Linked DNA regions of Homo sapiens: regions 2 and 3 are each linked to region 1. The links come from fine-mapping of genetic effects on gene expression. A gene starts in region 1. Each other region holds a variant in brackets. All regions are shown on one strand. Distances are from middle to middle. Region 1 holds the start of TLE4 (TLE family member 4, transcriptional corepressor). Region 2 overlaps TLE4 (TLE family member 4, transcriptional corepressor). Region 3 overlaps TLE4 (TLE family member 4, transcriptional corepressor).

Evidence for each region. PIP is the estimated chance that this variant, and not a neighbour inherited with it, causes the effect.
Region 2: its variant is fine-mapped to the expression of TLE4 in whole blood (TOPMed, PIP above 0.99).
Region 3: its variant is fine-mapped to the expression of TLE4 in whole blood (INTERVAL, PIP above 0.99).

The regions. Positions count from the first base shown.
Region 1 is chr9:79,569,521-79,574,747 of GRCh38, reverse strand. It overlaps TLE4 (TLE family member 4, transcriptional corepressor), which reads right to left and starts at 2,783. Exons shown (of 20, transcript NM_007005.6): 1 at 1,913-2,783; 2 at 962-1,059. The coding sequence starts at 1,957. RefSeq lists silencers at 1,172-1,411, 1,432-1,901, 2,012-2,171, 2,232-2,351, 4,262-4,311 and enhancers at 1,242-1,854, 2,582-2,671, 2,712-2,761, 2,772-2,901.
Region 2 is chr9:79,699,620-79,704,846 of GRCh38, reverse strand. It overlaps TLE4 (TLE family member 4, transcriptional corepressor), which reads right to left. Exons shown (of 20, transcript NM_007005.6): 9 at 1-64. Among named protein-coding and RNA genes, the nearest start is that of LINC01507, 120 kb to the left of the region's middle. The variant C/T (reference allele first, on the strand shown) is at 2,909.
Region 3 is chr9:79,722,803-79,728,029 of GRCh38, reverse strand. It overlaps TLE4 (TLE family member 4, transcriptional corepressor), which reads right to left. Exons shown (of 20, transcript NM_007005.6): 19 at 4,995-5,071; 20 at 1,148-2,993. The coding sequence ends at 2,886. Among named protein-coding and RNA genes, the nearest start is that of LINC01507, 99 kb to the left of the region's middle. The variant C/T (reference allele first, on the strand shown) is at 2,180.

The DNA of each region.
Region 1 (5,227 bases):
TTATGGAAAGGGAAGGGGAAAGGGGTGATTGGAACCAGTCTGGACTTGCCCCTTCAATAAGGATCATATATGTGGTTTTTTGTTTTTAGGATTTTTTTTTTAATTAAGTTTTAAGGAAACAAATCCTCTAATCAGTTTAATTCAGGAACTTCCTCCAGAATTGAATATTCACTTAATAAAACAAACACGAAAATAAACTTCAATAATGACTGCACATACAAGCACAAATAAGTCCTCCAAAACGTCACAAGGGAATTTCTTTAATGTTCTACAAAGAGATTAATGAAAATATGAATCAAGCATGTCTTATGAATGATATCTTGTTTTTTTCCCTCCAAAACACACAGACAAGTTGAATACCACCACCCAGGGGCAAAGTGTCAATCGGGTTCAGTGGTTTGTTTTGGTTCTTGCATTTATGAAATAAGAATTAGGCATCATTAAAAAGCCAGCTAAAGAAAAATGTCTCAAAGGCACCCTAAGTCTAAAAATCGTCTATAAGATGAAAACATTTTTTTTTTTTTTAGCATAAAAGTAATGAAATCGCTCACTCCGACTTCCCTGGGCTCTCAGCTCTTCAGTGGAATGGCAGAAAAAAGTGAGAAGGAATCAAGTCCGGAGTAATAAAGAACCAAGGATGTCAAAAGGCCCCAGAATCTTCCCAACCTTTCATTCTCCCGGCCCCAATAAATCAATATCGAAAGTTTGGCCTCAGCGTTTTCCAAGTCTCCCCAGTTTCGATTGTTCTGCCTTCTTTTTATTTACGGTAGAAGAAATGTTTAATTTATTTACACCTGCCTAAGGAAGGAGGCCTTGATTTGCCCTTTCTGCCCACCGAGAAAAAAAAATAATACCTTTGTGACGCCCCCACAAAAAAGGAGGAGGGTAAGTGTTTGTGTGTATTTGTCGGGGAGACAAGAGCTAAGCAAACAGAAGGATCAGCTAAAGTCAATATCGTTACCTGTGGTATTGAGCCTGTAAAAACTGAAACTCTTCCTTAATCCGATCACAGGATTCGGAAATTGTAAATTTAAAGGGTTGAGCAGGCTGATGCGGTGCCTGAAGAACAACAATAAAATATTTAATTAGCCCACATCACAGGCGAAGCAGGGAGACGGAGAAAACCTACTATGCGGCGTTAGCGGGGGGTGAGGGTCATCGCGCACGCAAGCAAAGAGAGATTAAAACTCTCCTCCCGCAACCCTCCTCGCGCCCAACAGCCCAGGCAGAGGCTGGTTTCGAGGTGGTCCTGGGGCCCCGCATACTCCCGCCCGCAGGCCCCCGCGCCCCGGACCCCGAGGGTTCGAGTCCCGTCTCCCCTCCCCGGCCAAAGACAGGCACCCAGGGACCCGCGCGCCGCGCCCACTCCCTCCTCACCCGGAATCGAAACTGGCCCGTCGGGGGGACCCGCGCCATGGCGTCGGGCTGCGGTCAGGCCGGGGGAGGAGGGAGGCGGCCGCCACCCTCTCGGCTCGTTCGTTCGCCCGCTCGCCCCGGCGGCCCGCGGCGCGAGGGGCCGGCGCCCCGCACTTCCAAACCGCAGCCAGCCCAGCAGCGCCGCTGCCGAGGGCGCCCTCCCCGCCCGGGCGCGGAGTCGCGCCTCCTTCATCGCTCGCCACCCCCCCTCGAGGAGTCGCGGCGCGGGGACCGCAAACGGCTCGGCGCGGCTTCCAGGGGCTTCAAAGACAACAATAAGAAAATGGCTACAACTCAATTGCCTCTCCGCACCCCCTCCGAGGGCCACCGCGCCGGGGGGTGGGGGTGATGGCGGGCGGGCTGCTCCCGGCGCGGGGCGCCGATTTCGGGCGGCTCTCCACGCCCCTCCGGCCAAAAGACACAACTCGGTGCGCAGGGGGCGACGCGGGGAATCCCCCAGCACCCGGCGAGCCCGCGCCCCGCCGCCCGCACTCACTGGGTGTCTGGTCTGCGGGTACATCTTGCTCAGGTCGCGAATCATCCAAGCCGATTTAGTTGGCTGCGCTCGGCAGAGGCGCGCGGCTCATTGGCTTTAATGACCCCGAAGAGGAGGCGGCCGCGGCAGCGGAGGCGGCCGGCTCGGTCTGAGGGGCGGCTCGGGCGGTCCCGGCCCCCGCCGGGTCTCGCGTGACACGGGCGGCAGGAACGCGCGGCGGCGGCTGGGTGCCGGCTGCCGGGCCGCTCCGCATTCCCCGCGGGCGTCACTGGCCCGCCGCGGGCATTGTCCGGCGCGCGTCTCCCAAGGCAACGCTCCGACGTTCGCTCCGCCGAGGCGCACCCGCCGAGCCCGGCGCCGCGGCCGCCGCTCACCCGGCCGGGAAAGTGCGGGCTCCGCGCCCCACCGCCCGCCGGCAGCTCCTCTCGCTCGCTCTGCGTCCCACTCCAAACTTTTTTTATTTGTCTTTTAATTGGTTGTTATTCCTCCGAATGAATGATCTTTCTTCTTCCCTAAAAGCAAACACAAACTCCTTTGGTTCGGAAGAGGTCTCGGCGGTGCTTTTTGGTTTCTCTGGAGATTTTTTTCACTTCACAGCAACGATCTTTTAAAAGGCACCTTTTAGCTTCTTTTACCACATCTCATTTCCTTATTTCTCTTCCTTCCTGTTTTCTTGTCTTTTTTTTAACCCCAAATTGAAGGGGATTATAAAAATAAAAGAGTGAAACGCTTGCGGCTTTTTTTTTTAATTCTCTCTCCTTTCAAACTCTGCGAACACCACCTCAAAATAATATACAAGTGTGTGAGAAAGGGGGAAGAAAGCAGCCAACAACCCAAACACCCGCTCAGCACAGCTCTAACAACACGCTCTGTGTAGGTGACTTCTTTGACCAAATTTAGCAGCAGCTAATCATTAACATTCTGATACATATTCACAATCTTCCGCGGGGCGGCCGCGCAGCATCCCGGGAGATGTAGTCCGCCCCGGGCGACCCTGCCTGAGAATACGGCCAGATTGACTACAATCACCGGCCCGCCATGCGAGCGCTCTGGCGAGCTCTCCAAGCGCCCCGCCCACCCCCGTTGCGGTAGGCGTCTCCACCAACCAATCAGAGGTGGCTGAACATTAATCGCCGTTCTGTGTTAGTGCCCATCATTTCACTGCTGACAAATGGCAAGCCAGCGGGGAGGAGCCAACCCAGCTGAAACCCACGTGGGGGCCGGGCGTCGCCTGTAGCTCCGACCAATTAACGAAGAGGAATGAGGTTGGCGGAGGCGGGGCGGAGATGGCCCGCCCAAGGCGGAGCTTCGCCTTGGCTGACGTTCCTTAGCGCGAGCGTTCGAACCGGGAAAACATTTGTTCAGCTGTCAATCAAAGTAACGTGGGGCTGGGAGAATCGGCGGCTGCTGCTGTTGCTGCTGCCCTGGCTGCATCTTCAGAATTAGGTGTTGGTGGTGGTGGTGGTGGTGGCGGCAAAATAAAGAGGGTGGAGGGAGCGGTGAGCCTGGGGGCTGGTCAAAAGATCTTCTTCCGAGTCTCGTCCTCCCGCCCACCCGTCTCCCAACCCAGACACCTTCGGCCCCTCGCTCCGCAGCCGCGCCAGGAATGCGGACTAATTAGGGTCCAATGTCTCCTTAAAGAGACAAGCTCGGCCTTGTGTAACGCGCCGAAACCCCTGTTGAGACAAGAGGGGGAGGATCACGCTGATCTTACTTCGTTCGGTTCACATCAATTTTACGCGCCGCTGGAGCCGGCATAATTTTCCGTGTGAACGCGACTCGGTCCCCGTTCTTGTTTAGAGCCAGAAATGGAGTCGCGAGATGCTGGCTGGGGCCGGGGCCGCGGGGTGGGCGGGGAGCTCGTCCCTCCAAGCCCCGCGGGGGCTGTGATTGCCATTTAGTTCCGAAACAGGCCTCCCTCCCTCCACCCCCGGAGGCACTCGGAGAGAAAGCGCATCCCGACGCTCCATCGGGGGTCGCGGGGGGCAGTAACCGTGGGGGCTCCGGGTGGGGCTGAAGATCCGGGAATCAGAGACGCTGGACCTCCAAAGAAACTTTGCCGACTGGGCCACGTGAACCCCGAACACGGTCGGTACTGAACAGAGCAGGCCGACGGGGCACGGGTAGAAAACGCCCCTGCGCGCCCTGGGACGTTCCCTCCCCCAGATCAGTACCAAGACTGCGCCTCTTTTTCCCGCTCTTTGGAGAAGCAAGTCAAGTTTATCCCCGTTAAAAACAGAGCAGGGTGCCACGCGGGCCCGAGAGATGGCGGAAAGGTGGGGGTGGCCCCAGGGGCAGATGCTGGAGGAGGAGAGAAAGGGGCAGCCATGGCTGAGGAGGGGCACCCCTAGGGAGGGGCCTGGGAAATGGGGGCGGCCTCCGTCAGTGCGCCTTTCCATCCTTAGTCCGTGTCCAGCTGGAGGCAGCGCCCCAGTTCAAGGGGAGGCTGCTGAGGCTCGCAGTCTTTTCTAGCGAGCGGCTAATCTTGGGGACAGGGAAAAAATTCGGAAAAAGTCAAGAAGAGTGTTGGCTAATGTAACAGGCTGGGTTTTAGACGTTTATTTCTATGCGTGCTTGCCTACTGTAACTTGACCTGTTGGTTGAGATGGTGCCGCCGGTTCGGCGTTAGTGGAAAACTATTCTTCTTAATGATATCCCTTTCCTCAGTGGATGACTCGGTGACTTAATGTCCAACCTAGCACGTTCTGTGAACCTCCTTCCGTTCTGGCCACTGTAGTGAGCTGGTGCAAAGGAAGGCTATGGTGGTCTTCACCTGCCTCTAATTTCATACTAAAAACCCAGAGCCAAAGTTCACAGAATGTTTCAATTCGGCAAATATTTTCGCCTCCATCCCCAAAATAAGAGGACAGAGAAGTCCTTTTGACAGTTTTCTGAACCTCTGCTGTTCCATACCTAGCCACATGTGACTGTTAAGCACTTGAAATGTGTCCAATTCAAAATGAGATGTGCTGTAAGTACACATATATGTGGCATTTTGAAAAAATTAATGTGAAAAAACTGCAGCTCAATAATTTATAATTATGTCAAAATTGTGATATTTTGAATAACTCAATTAAAAATATTAGTAAAATTAATTTTGTCTGTTTCTATTTATTTATTGTATTGATGGGGGTCTTCCTGTGTTGCCTAGGCTGGCCTCAAACTCTGAAGCTCAAGCTATCCTCCTGCCTGAGCCTCCAGTGTTGTTGGGACTGCAGGCACACACTTTTTTTTTTTTTTTTTTTTTTTTTTGAGACAGAGTTTCGCTCTTGTTGCCCAGGCTGGAGTGCAATGGCACGATCTCGGCTCACCGCA
Region 2 (5,227 bases), 130 kb before region 1:
AGTCTGCGGAGTTTCTGTGCTTCTCAGCACCTCGGAAACTGGCTGATGGGGATACTGAAGAGCTCTGGAATTAGAAGGAGAGGAAGCATGGTTGAGAAATTATCATCTATTTAGCCGAGTGATTTTTAAGTCACTTGAGACTTTCTTTTCTTTTTATTCTTTAGCATATACTTGCAAAGCTGTTAAGAGGAGATAGGAGAAAGCGGAGGAGACGAAAGGAAGAAAACAGGGATATAAAGGGAAAGACAAGTAGCAAAAGACAAGGGGGAAAGATAATGGGAAAGAAAGAAAAAACGAGAAGAGGCAGAGAGATGGGACAGAGGGAGGAGAGGAAATAAAAAGGGTGGCAGGAATTAGTGTAAACTCAAAACAGAATGGGTTTGGTTTTACGGATATATTGTACTGTTGAAGTGCCTTTAGAAACTTGGGAAAGGGGCTGGGCATGGTGATTCACACCTGTAATCCCAGTACTTTGGGAAGCCAAGGCGGGCAGATCACAAGGTCAGGAGGTCGAGACCATCCTGGCCAACATGGTGAAACCCCATCTCCACTAAAAAGACAAAACAAATTAGCTGGGCATGGTGGCGTGCCTGCAGTCCCAGCTACTCAGGAGGCTGAGGCAGGAGAACTGCTTGAACCCGGGAGGCAGATGCTGCAGTGAGCCAAGATGGCGCCACTGCATTCCAGCCTGGGCGACAGAGTGAAACTCTGTCTCAAAAAAAAGAAAGAAAGTTGGGAAAGGAAGCATATATGAGAAAAAAGGGAAGGAGAAAAAGCCAGGTTTTTTTGTTTGTTTGTTTTGTTTTGTTTTTAAAGTTTGCTGGCTAATGGGAAGCCAGCATTTCAAGCTTCTATAGAAAAACTATAAAGTAGAGCTTTTAAGAGGTAATTAGTAAGTCAATGAAAAAAAAAGGGGGGAAAGTAATTTTGGGGGATTTGAGCAACCAAAGATGGCAGTCATGTGACATATAGGTCATATTTATGAAGTTTTGCTCAGCGCCATATGTTAGGGCCTGGAAGATACAGAGTGGCAGGAAAAACACCACCTGCAGAAATGCGTATTATTCCTTTCTCACTCCTATAGTTTTCATGAACCCACACCTTTCAATGTCTGGAAACCTAGGAATGCCACTGGGGCCAGGGAATGGAGAAAGATGCTCCATGCCTCTTGGGACCACACTTAGGCTCAGCCTGTATGCTTCACCTCTGCTTTCAAGGAGCTCTCAACTGGAGAAGTCTCCTATACACACAAGAGACGTGGGTGACAAGACCTGAAGCAGAGAATGACTCTATCTGCCATGAAGGTCAGGTGGTTATTGGGCACATTTAGATAATATGAGAGCTTAAAATCATGGATGAAGAAGTGAAAAAAGTGCCAATGAAAACTGGAACAATCTTAACAACTGCCTAGTGACTAAGCTTCAGACAGACCAAAGAAAAGATCTAAATGCAGGTGAGGTGGGAGAGCGGGAGCTGGACTGAGGGCTGCGCTATGCTGCTGAGTGGTGAATGGCAAAAACCTGAGTAACACAGTCCCTTGGCAGGGCACCAGGGCAGGGCTCCCAAGTGTGAATGACCCTAACCCAGGGTAACAAAGGGCTGATCTTGGAGAGTAGTAGAAAGAATATCTGAAAATCTCTATGGAAAAAAAGTTATAGGAAGAACAATCACCACTGGAACGTCTCTGTCTGGCATGCAAATCAATTCAGAAAACTGGTCAGGAAAGCTCTTCCTCATTTATAAATTTATTTCATATAAGACTAACTCTTTGAACGGGTTTTTTTTTTTGCTTTATCTTAGTCTGTTGGTAATAACTGATGTTTATAAAAACATACAACATTTACGAGGCCCTTTTAATTAACTATGAGAGAAAGTGTGTTACCCAGAACTTTTGGGTCTATGTTCCATTTTATTTCCACTGAGCCTTAATGTCACAATCTCTTTTGTGGCATTTCTGAACTTCCAAAGCACATTGTTAAGAAGATTGATGGTCTTTCTTCATACCTGTGGTGATGGCAACTCTTTATTACAAGCTCCAAAGATGTGCAGGTGGGAGTTTGGTGGGGGAGAGAGATGGGACCAGTGAGTGGGTGCCCACTGGGCGGGCTGGGGACCTCTAAATCCGTCCCTGCTGTGCCAGCCCCTCTTGAGGTTTTATATGAATACTCTAGCCCTAGACCTATCAAACGTTCAGCCTTAAACTTAGTGGCAGAAAAGACTGCAGGCATTATTCAGTAAGGCTGAAGATTGACACAAAACATTACGAGCCAAACGATTTTTTAAAGTGGACTACTTCTTGACTTTTGTGTATCTCTGCTGAGTTCCAAACCTCACTCCCAAGCCATGAGACTTGGGTCAACACTTCTGCTTTGCTTTCACACAACCCAATGCACTCAGTAGGTTTTCATGACCACTGAAACCATGCATGCAATCATCATCTGTGGGTTACTATCTACCATACTTCATGCCTCAATCCCGTTTCTAGTTTTCCCCTCTCCAGTCTATCCACCTCACTTCTGGAATTCATACTTCCCAAAGAGAGGTTCAGCCTGTTTTAACTCCTCTTTTAAAAGGACAGTTTCCTACTGTTCACAGGGGGAAAAAAATTCCAAATTTCTGAGTATGGCTGTTTTCCAAAGTCCTCACTCCACACCCCAATCCAGAGTCCTGGCCTTGTATCCTACATCAGCACTATAAGCCAGTGTTCCCCTGGGCTCTGTGTATTTTCGTTGCACCTGTAGCCTTTTTTCCTGGCTTATGGCAATGACTATTTTCTCAAGATCTATCTTTTGAAATCCCCCACTATCCTTAAGAATCAGCTCTAATGTCACCTTTCAAAGCTTCCTCAGATGCTGTCAGGCAGAATTAATCATTCATTCCTCTTTGTTCCCTTAACATTTTGTTCCTC[C/T]AATGAGTAAAGCACTCACAACAAATTTATTGCTGTGTTTACAAGGCCACTTCCCACTTTAGGCTGTGGGTTCCCTGAGGGTGGGGCACCTAGCATCATGAGCAGAAGGGAACTGCCCAGAAATATTTCTCAACACAAATGGCTGAACATCCCCTCTGCACGCCTCAATCTCACTCCAAATCTCTTATGATACATTCCTTTTCTGAGCATCACTAGGATGAACAATTCCATGGGAGACCATTCACTAGAGTAAGATTTGTGTTGTGGTGCCCTTGGAATCGGTAATATGGCAATTCAGCCCCTTCCTCACCTTTGCTCCTTTACTTACCTTTAGATGCACTAAATCTGGCTAATTTCATATTTTACAAAAAGAAGAAAAATGGAGTATATATATCTTTTATTAACAATTCTCTGATTCTGCTATATTCTATTGAAAGTTATTTCCACATTGTTTAAGAGGAAAAATTTCTAAACAAAACAATTTCTTAAAAATACTAAAAGGTAATGCCTATTTAGATTTAGATTTTATGTTCATTTATTGGCTCATATGTACAACCAAATACTTTATATTTTTCTTAAGCTAGCTGTTTCCGGTTTTGCAGGCAGCGTTGTATTTTTGAAGTTGACTGTAGAACAGAGTTACATGTTGGAGTTTCTTGGTAGAATGATAAAGTAGTTAATTATCACTAGCATTTAAAGGTTAAGCTGCACAGTGGGCACTGGGGCAATCAGCAATGTTCTAATAACATAATTACTCTGGAATCAAATTGGACTTGGCACAGACTCTCATCATGAATCTTGTAAGTCCACCATTCTGCCACAGGAATGCCACTTGGATCTTTGCTAGGCATGTGAATAAGAGGAATTAAATAAATACCGATAAAGTCATGCTTTTACTAGAAAAGCTTTTTATTTTATTATTTTTTATTTCTCTATTATTATTTTAAAAGCTCAATTTAGATATTTCTCAAGTTTACTACATAAGAAACTTACTGAAGCTGCATTGTGACCCTATAAATCTACAAATTTAGAAGGATTAAACACAAGTCTTTCTCACTACAGTTTGAGTGTGCGTGTGTGTGTGTATGTGTGTGTGTATCTCAGCAAATCTGTTATGATTGGAGAGTCACGGTCACAAGCAATGGCTGATCCAGAGAAAGCAAAATACCCTGAATGTGAATGTTTAGTAAAGCTCTGGATTTTAAAAGTAAACACTTATGCTGGGATATTTAAAAAGAACAGGGTAGATCTGTTTAAGAAAAAGAGCAGGAAAACAAGGAGAAACCAAGAAAAAAATACTAAAGGATTAAAAGACTTATTACATGGAAACCCCAATTGCTTTGGTAGCAAAAGGTAAGCTTTAAAAAGCTATAATCAGGTTCTAATTTCACTATGAGAAGATTCTAGTTCCTAGATTAAAGACCATCCCAGACTTTACTAGGGCTGTTGACCAAGTCAGATGGAAAACTGACACCTCCAGCAACTTGAAAGGGAAGGCCCCACCCCTCCACCTTTACTCCTCTGCCACCTCAAGATCAAAGATGACAATGTATGAGAAAGACTTCTATAAAGTAACTTCCCCCTCCAAAAGAAGATGCTGTTGTTATAATTAGCTAATTTTAATAACAGGGAGCACAGATTTTAATAGCAGGCAAGAGCATCTCTCTGGAGTCAGACTGCCTGGTGTGAGTCTAGAGTCTTCACTTAATAGCCGTAAGGGATGTTGCTTAGTCTCAGCCTCTCTTTAGTCTGGGGTAACAACACACCATTCTCAGCCCCACGGGCTGCTTTGAAGACCAAGAAAAATAATCCACATAAAGTACAACGCGCAGTCCCAGGCACATAGCCTAGCCCCTCAACAGTGCAACTTAGTCCTATCACTGTATACTGGACTCCAGTTGATTCTACTTACTTTAGAGATTGGGATGGTGACCTAGTGTGGATCTTCTATTTTAAACCTTATGTTAGGTCTTTTCTAGACATTTGTGTAGGACTTCCCCCAGCATAGATATTCTGATGCCCCATAATTATAGGGTTTTAATATGCTACTATTCACCAAAACTTTTCTCCTTTCAACAATCACGATAAGGTTTTGGTTCAATACTGCACAGAGGCAAGACTGCAAATACCATCTCCACAATGGACTTTCTAATTTGATTTCAAATGCACACCATGCCAATTTTGCTTTCCATTCACACAGGTGCAGTGCTTAGACTTCCCTGCCCATAGACGATAACAACCAGAAAGAACATGCTAAAGGTCGCATGGAAACCATGATCAAGCAGCCTAAAACTCATTCGTTATGGCTTGTTTGCTCAT
Region 3 (5,227 bases), 150 kb before region 1:
TAGGACAATGTGTGGTCCACTGTGTCGGTCCACATGGACAACTCTGCTCTGTGCCTTACCTAGATAATCACCTCCCTCTTACTCCAGACGCCCCCAGTCTTCCAGTGTGTACAGATATACTCGATGCATTAGTACCTTCCTCAGACTTGCTTTTCCCTTAGGGTTTCCAAATCTTTGGACCATATAGGTACACAAGCTGTGAAAAACCTGAGATAATGGGTAGGTGGCTAATATTGTATGTATATATTATATATACGTATATATATAAAATATGTAATATAAGCCAGTACAGTGCTCTGTACATAGCAGATATTGAAGATTATTCCTTCCCAGTCCAACATAAACTCCATCATCCTGTCTAGGGACACATCTTTGAAGATGATCACTTACCCCCATGTTTTTTATGGTTTTTAATTTTTCAGCCAGCCTTCAATGACTTGTGTGTCATCATTTGATGTAACAACGCACATGGTATCACAATGGAAGTGCGGCTTCCAGTCCAACTGATGAATACTGTACTTAACTCAGCAACCGAAGTATCTCTTATAGATGATCCCTCCAGACTACTGTGGGGCTTCCAATCCTCCTACTTAGTAGAACCTTAAAATGTCGGATTTTTGAGTCCCAGCACTTTAGAATTCTTAATTTAAACTCCTCTTTATACTGAATCTTCATACACCCAACCAGTAGCAGCCCAAGAAGCCTGGTGTAAAGACCTCAGTGTGTTATGCTAGAAATGCTTCCCAAATCCACATGGCTGGCAATGGTTTACATTGGCTAACTTAAAGCCCGTGTTGATGTGTCTAGTCCAATACGGTAGCCATTAGCCACATGTGGCTACTTGACACTTGAAATGTAGTTTGTGTGACTGGTAAATTAGATTTCTAGTTTTATTTAACTTTAATAAATTTAAAGAGCCACAAATGCCTAGGGTAACCATATTGAACAGCATAGCTCTAAAGCATCAAGGGTTTGAGGGACATGATAACCTTTTGGTAAGCAGTATTTTTATAAATCAAAGAGGTACTCAATAAATATTTAGCACCAACTGGTCACTGTTAACTTCTATCACCTACCTTTTCTAGCTCCTCTCAAGTAAAGACAAAACCAAAACAAAAACAGCAACAGTGAAAAAAACCCACATTACTTTAACAACAAAAAAAACCACTTTACTTTAACAACAATCTCCCTTGAAAAAACTAGGCATTTTTAATATATAGGAGTGGCACAGCCAAAGATAAAAAATAAACTAATGTCATCAAGACAAAGAATTAGAAAAATAAGCATACTAGAAGTTATTTATGTTTAATGCTTAAAAGTCTGAATTCACAAACAATCTACCATTATAGAAGTACTGGTGGTCAATACAATGCATTAGAACTATGTACAACGCACAGTTTAGTATCAAAATCTTTCTACACTGTAGAGTTTTACGAAACTGTTAATGACATCAAACACTAAGCACTTAAGACACCATTTTTTTTTTTCTGCTACCACATTAGGAACGTCAATGGACAGTCCATTTCAACTTGCAGCATCCATCCATTTCTAGTATGAAATTAAGTAATTTTCTACTTATACAATAAAGTATATCTACACGGTTCTTTTGATTTTGATCCATAGCAGCAAAGGCACTGTACATCAGCAGATCCACAGACTTAAAAGATTTTTAAAGCATTCAAACAAAAAATAATAAAAAAAGAAGTCACATATTATAGTTTAACAGCAACAACAACAACATAAAAGATAACACAATGTTTCTGGCACAATGGCACAGCCTGTGTCCATTTCAGGGACATCCAACTAAGACATGGAAAGAACCGGAGGTAAAGAAAGCAAGTCCTCATCCCAGGAGAGAGTCCATTCTTTGTGTTTTTCAGAGGGAGGTCTCTGCAAACCCTCCTCTGCTGTCCTTGTTTTGTAAAAGACTTAACTTGCACAGCAGTGGGAGTCCTCCCCATAACTGTGCAGCTCCCAAAGAGCATGCCACAAAATAACCCATAATTTCTCATAACAACAAAACTGACTAAAGATATATATATCTCCTTTTGCAAAGAAATGTGGCAAAAATATCCAGAAGGGAGTAAGTTCTCTCTTTGAGGCCAAATTTAATTTGTTCATCTGCCTATAATACAACAAAAAAAGGGAACTAAAAACATATTACAAAGACACTTGTCAA[C/T]GAGTCAAAAAAAGAAAAAAAGTCCAATTACTTTTATCGAATATAATCTAAAGCTATAGATATATTGGTTAACGTTGTCTAAATAGATCCAAATGAGTATGAGTTGGCCTGTTGTGTTCTAATTGTTCAGCCAAATTTCCAAAAGTCTTTAAAAGATGTAGAAAACAAAAACAAAAAAAACCTAATAACAACACAGCAACATATTGCTTCCATGTGTAATTATACATTTCACATCTCTATACAGTCATCAGTCTACACTTAGTGACATTTTAAATCAATTATTTTAAACCTTCCTTTCCCCTCCTTTGCCAAAAAAAGGGGGGGAGGGGTATCAAATACAACGCACCTTCATTATCAATGCAGGAGCAGACAGCTTTATTTAGTCAGTCATTGTTAGAAAGCCTTCTTTAAACAAAATAAATATATTACAGATATAATACATAATTAAAGATTCTTTTCACTGTTAAGTATGCTTATTCCATGTTCTTCCAAGTAGACAGCTGAAGATTTGGTATCACAGGTTTTTAATGACTATTCACAATTCAATAGCAAGTGGGAAGTGAGGTTAAGAAAGGGGATTAAACTCCACAACTGCAATGAGTATCTGAAATCCTTGGTTTTAGATGCGGGGATGGGGGTGAACAAAAAGGATGACAGAGCAAAGTGCTACCAGGAGGAGAAGTCCAGTCTGCATGAAGATTTGTCTTTAATAAATAACTTCATAAACTGTGGCCTTCTTATCCCCAGAGCCAGTGACAATGTATTTGTCGTCCACGGAGATGTCACAGCTAAGCACCGATGAGGATTCTTTGGACTAGGAAAGAAACATATAATCAAAAATGTTAAATACTGAAAGAAAATCCCATGAGTATGGAGGACTTAGAGCAAATGCAAATGTAATGTGCTCCTTGACCAAACAGAAAGCCCAGTCAAGGAAAGGTGAAAGGTGGTCATGGACAGTACTGCTGCTTTTTTTTTTTTTTTTTTTTTTTTTTTTTTTTAATAAGACAGGGTCTCCCTCAGTCACTCAGGCTGCAGTGCAGTGGTGTGACCATGGCTCACTGTAGCCTCGACCTTCTGAGCTCAAGCAATCCTTCCACCTCAGTCTCCTGAGATGCTGGGACTACGACACTGATGTGTCCAATCACACCTAATTTTCAAACTTTTTTTGTAGAGAGAGGGTCTCACTAAGTTGCCCAGGCTGGTCTCGAACTCCTGGGCTCAAGAGATCCTCTTGCCTTGGCCTCCCAAATTATGCCTGAGATTACAGGCATGAGCCACCACGTGGCACTTTCTTAAAATGGCAGAGGTGGATCGGATCCACCCTTGGCGACACCTCACCAGGTCAGTCAGGAGGCTTCTGTCCTGGGGACATCAGCTAGGCAGGCAAGCCAATGGCATGAGCACCTCTGCTGGCAAAGCAAGACCTTATTTCAAACCCTATTCTACCATTAAGACGGGGTGTTACTGGTATGAAAAACCCTCAACTTCAAACAGATGGCTTGGAGTCAGGTTGAGCTGTGGAACACGGCACAGGTCACTTAACCTGTCTGCACCTCAGTTTCCTTACAATAGCAAACAGGTAGACATTTTACCTGTCTACCACCTCAGAGGGATGCAGCAGAGTTCAGTGAGATCAGATATGAGAAATGGCACTGAGAATACATTAAAAAAAAAAAAAGAATGTAAAAATATTCCTAGTAAAAAGCCTAATGTTCCCACTGTAAAAATGTGACACAAATTTGCGAGAGGGGAGAGGTTCAACAGTTAAAAACATACCATAGAATTTTGTATACCATATTCAACTGTAGTATGAAGGATTCAATGTTAACTTTTAACTAAACTGTGCTCATTTAAAATGAAAACAACACAGGATTTTAACCAGGACTCTGAATACTTTAAACACTTAAAGACATAGTACTTATGCTTACTATAAAAAATGTACTACTCTTTTTTTAAAGTGCAGTTGGGACTATCTAACAAGTGATAATCCATGTTATGAAAAATGCTCTATTAAATTCTAAGCTTCATGACTGCAACAATTGGCGTTTTTTGTCCTACTGATTATCTTGCATACTATTTTGGATTCGATGGAATTAATCTACTTTATGATAATACCACTTGGTCAAGAAAACTGCAAGTCTATTATATTGCTTGTAAAAAAGAACACTAGGAAATAACATCCTAAATATAGAAGGTTAATAAAGGCAAGTCTTTCACCTTGCCTATGAAATTCTCACATACCAGTAGGAGAGAGGAGGAGAGCGTGTGTGTGCACGCGTGCATATATGTGTACTATGTCTACAATTTGGTCCTTCTACAAATAATTTCACAAGCTATACAAAGTTCCACTGAGTCAATAGGGAAAATAAAAGTTTATAAAACTGATTTTTATCAAACTTTTCCATAACACTCTTCTTTGGAAAAAATAAAATAAAAAAACTACTACTACTAACAAGAGTGTATTTAAGCAAAATGCTCAAGTTTTAAAATTAAAAATTACAAAAGACATACATGTATAAAATTCTCAGAAGACATAAAACCTCTACTCCAAAAAGGGATTGATGATGAAGCAACAGTGAGCACTGAATCAGGCACAGCACTGGCTCTGAGCTCAGAACACTGGGGACTATCCCCAGCTCCACGGCTTTGCTGTGACACTTAACCTCTCCTTGGACACAGTTTCCTTCTCTGTACAATGTGCATAATACTAGCTCTGACCTCCCAGGACACTTCTGCACATTATTAATCTGAGAGAATGCACAGAGAGTTTGATTAAACAAACATAAGTGGTAGTTAACAAGTTCCATGTTACCTGGAATATACTGGCCCCATAAGGTGTTCTCCAGGCATTCAGAAGGTTGTCCTTTCCAGTGCTTACAAACCATTTGCCTATAGGTAAAGGGTTTTGAAAAAGGCAATGTTTGTGTTACTCTGTCAGACACCAAGATTTGCTTTATAGAACACCAAACTATTAACAGAAAACTCATCCATTTGTAAAAAATAACTTTCACTTCAAAAATAAAGCCTATCTTTCTGGATTTAATC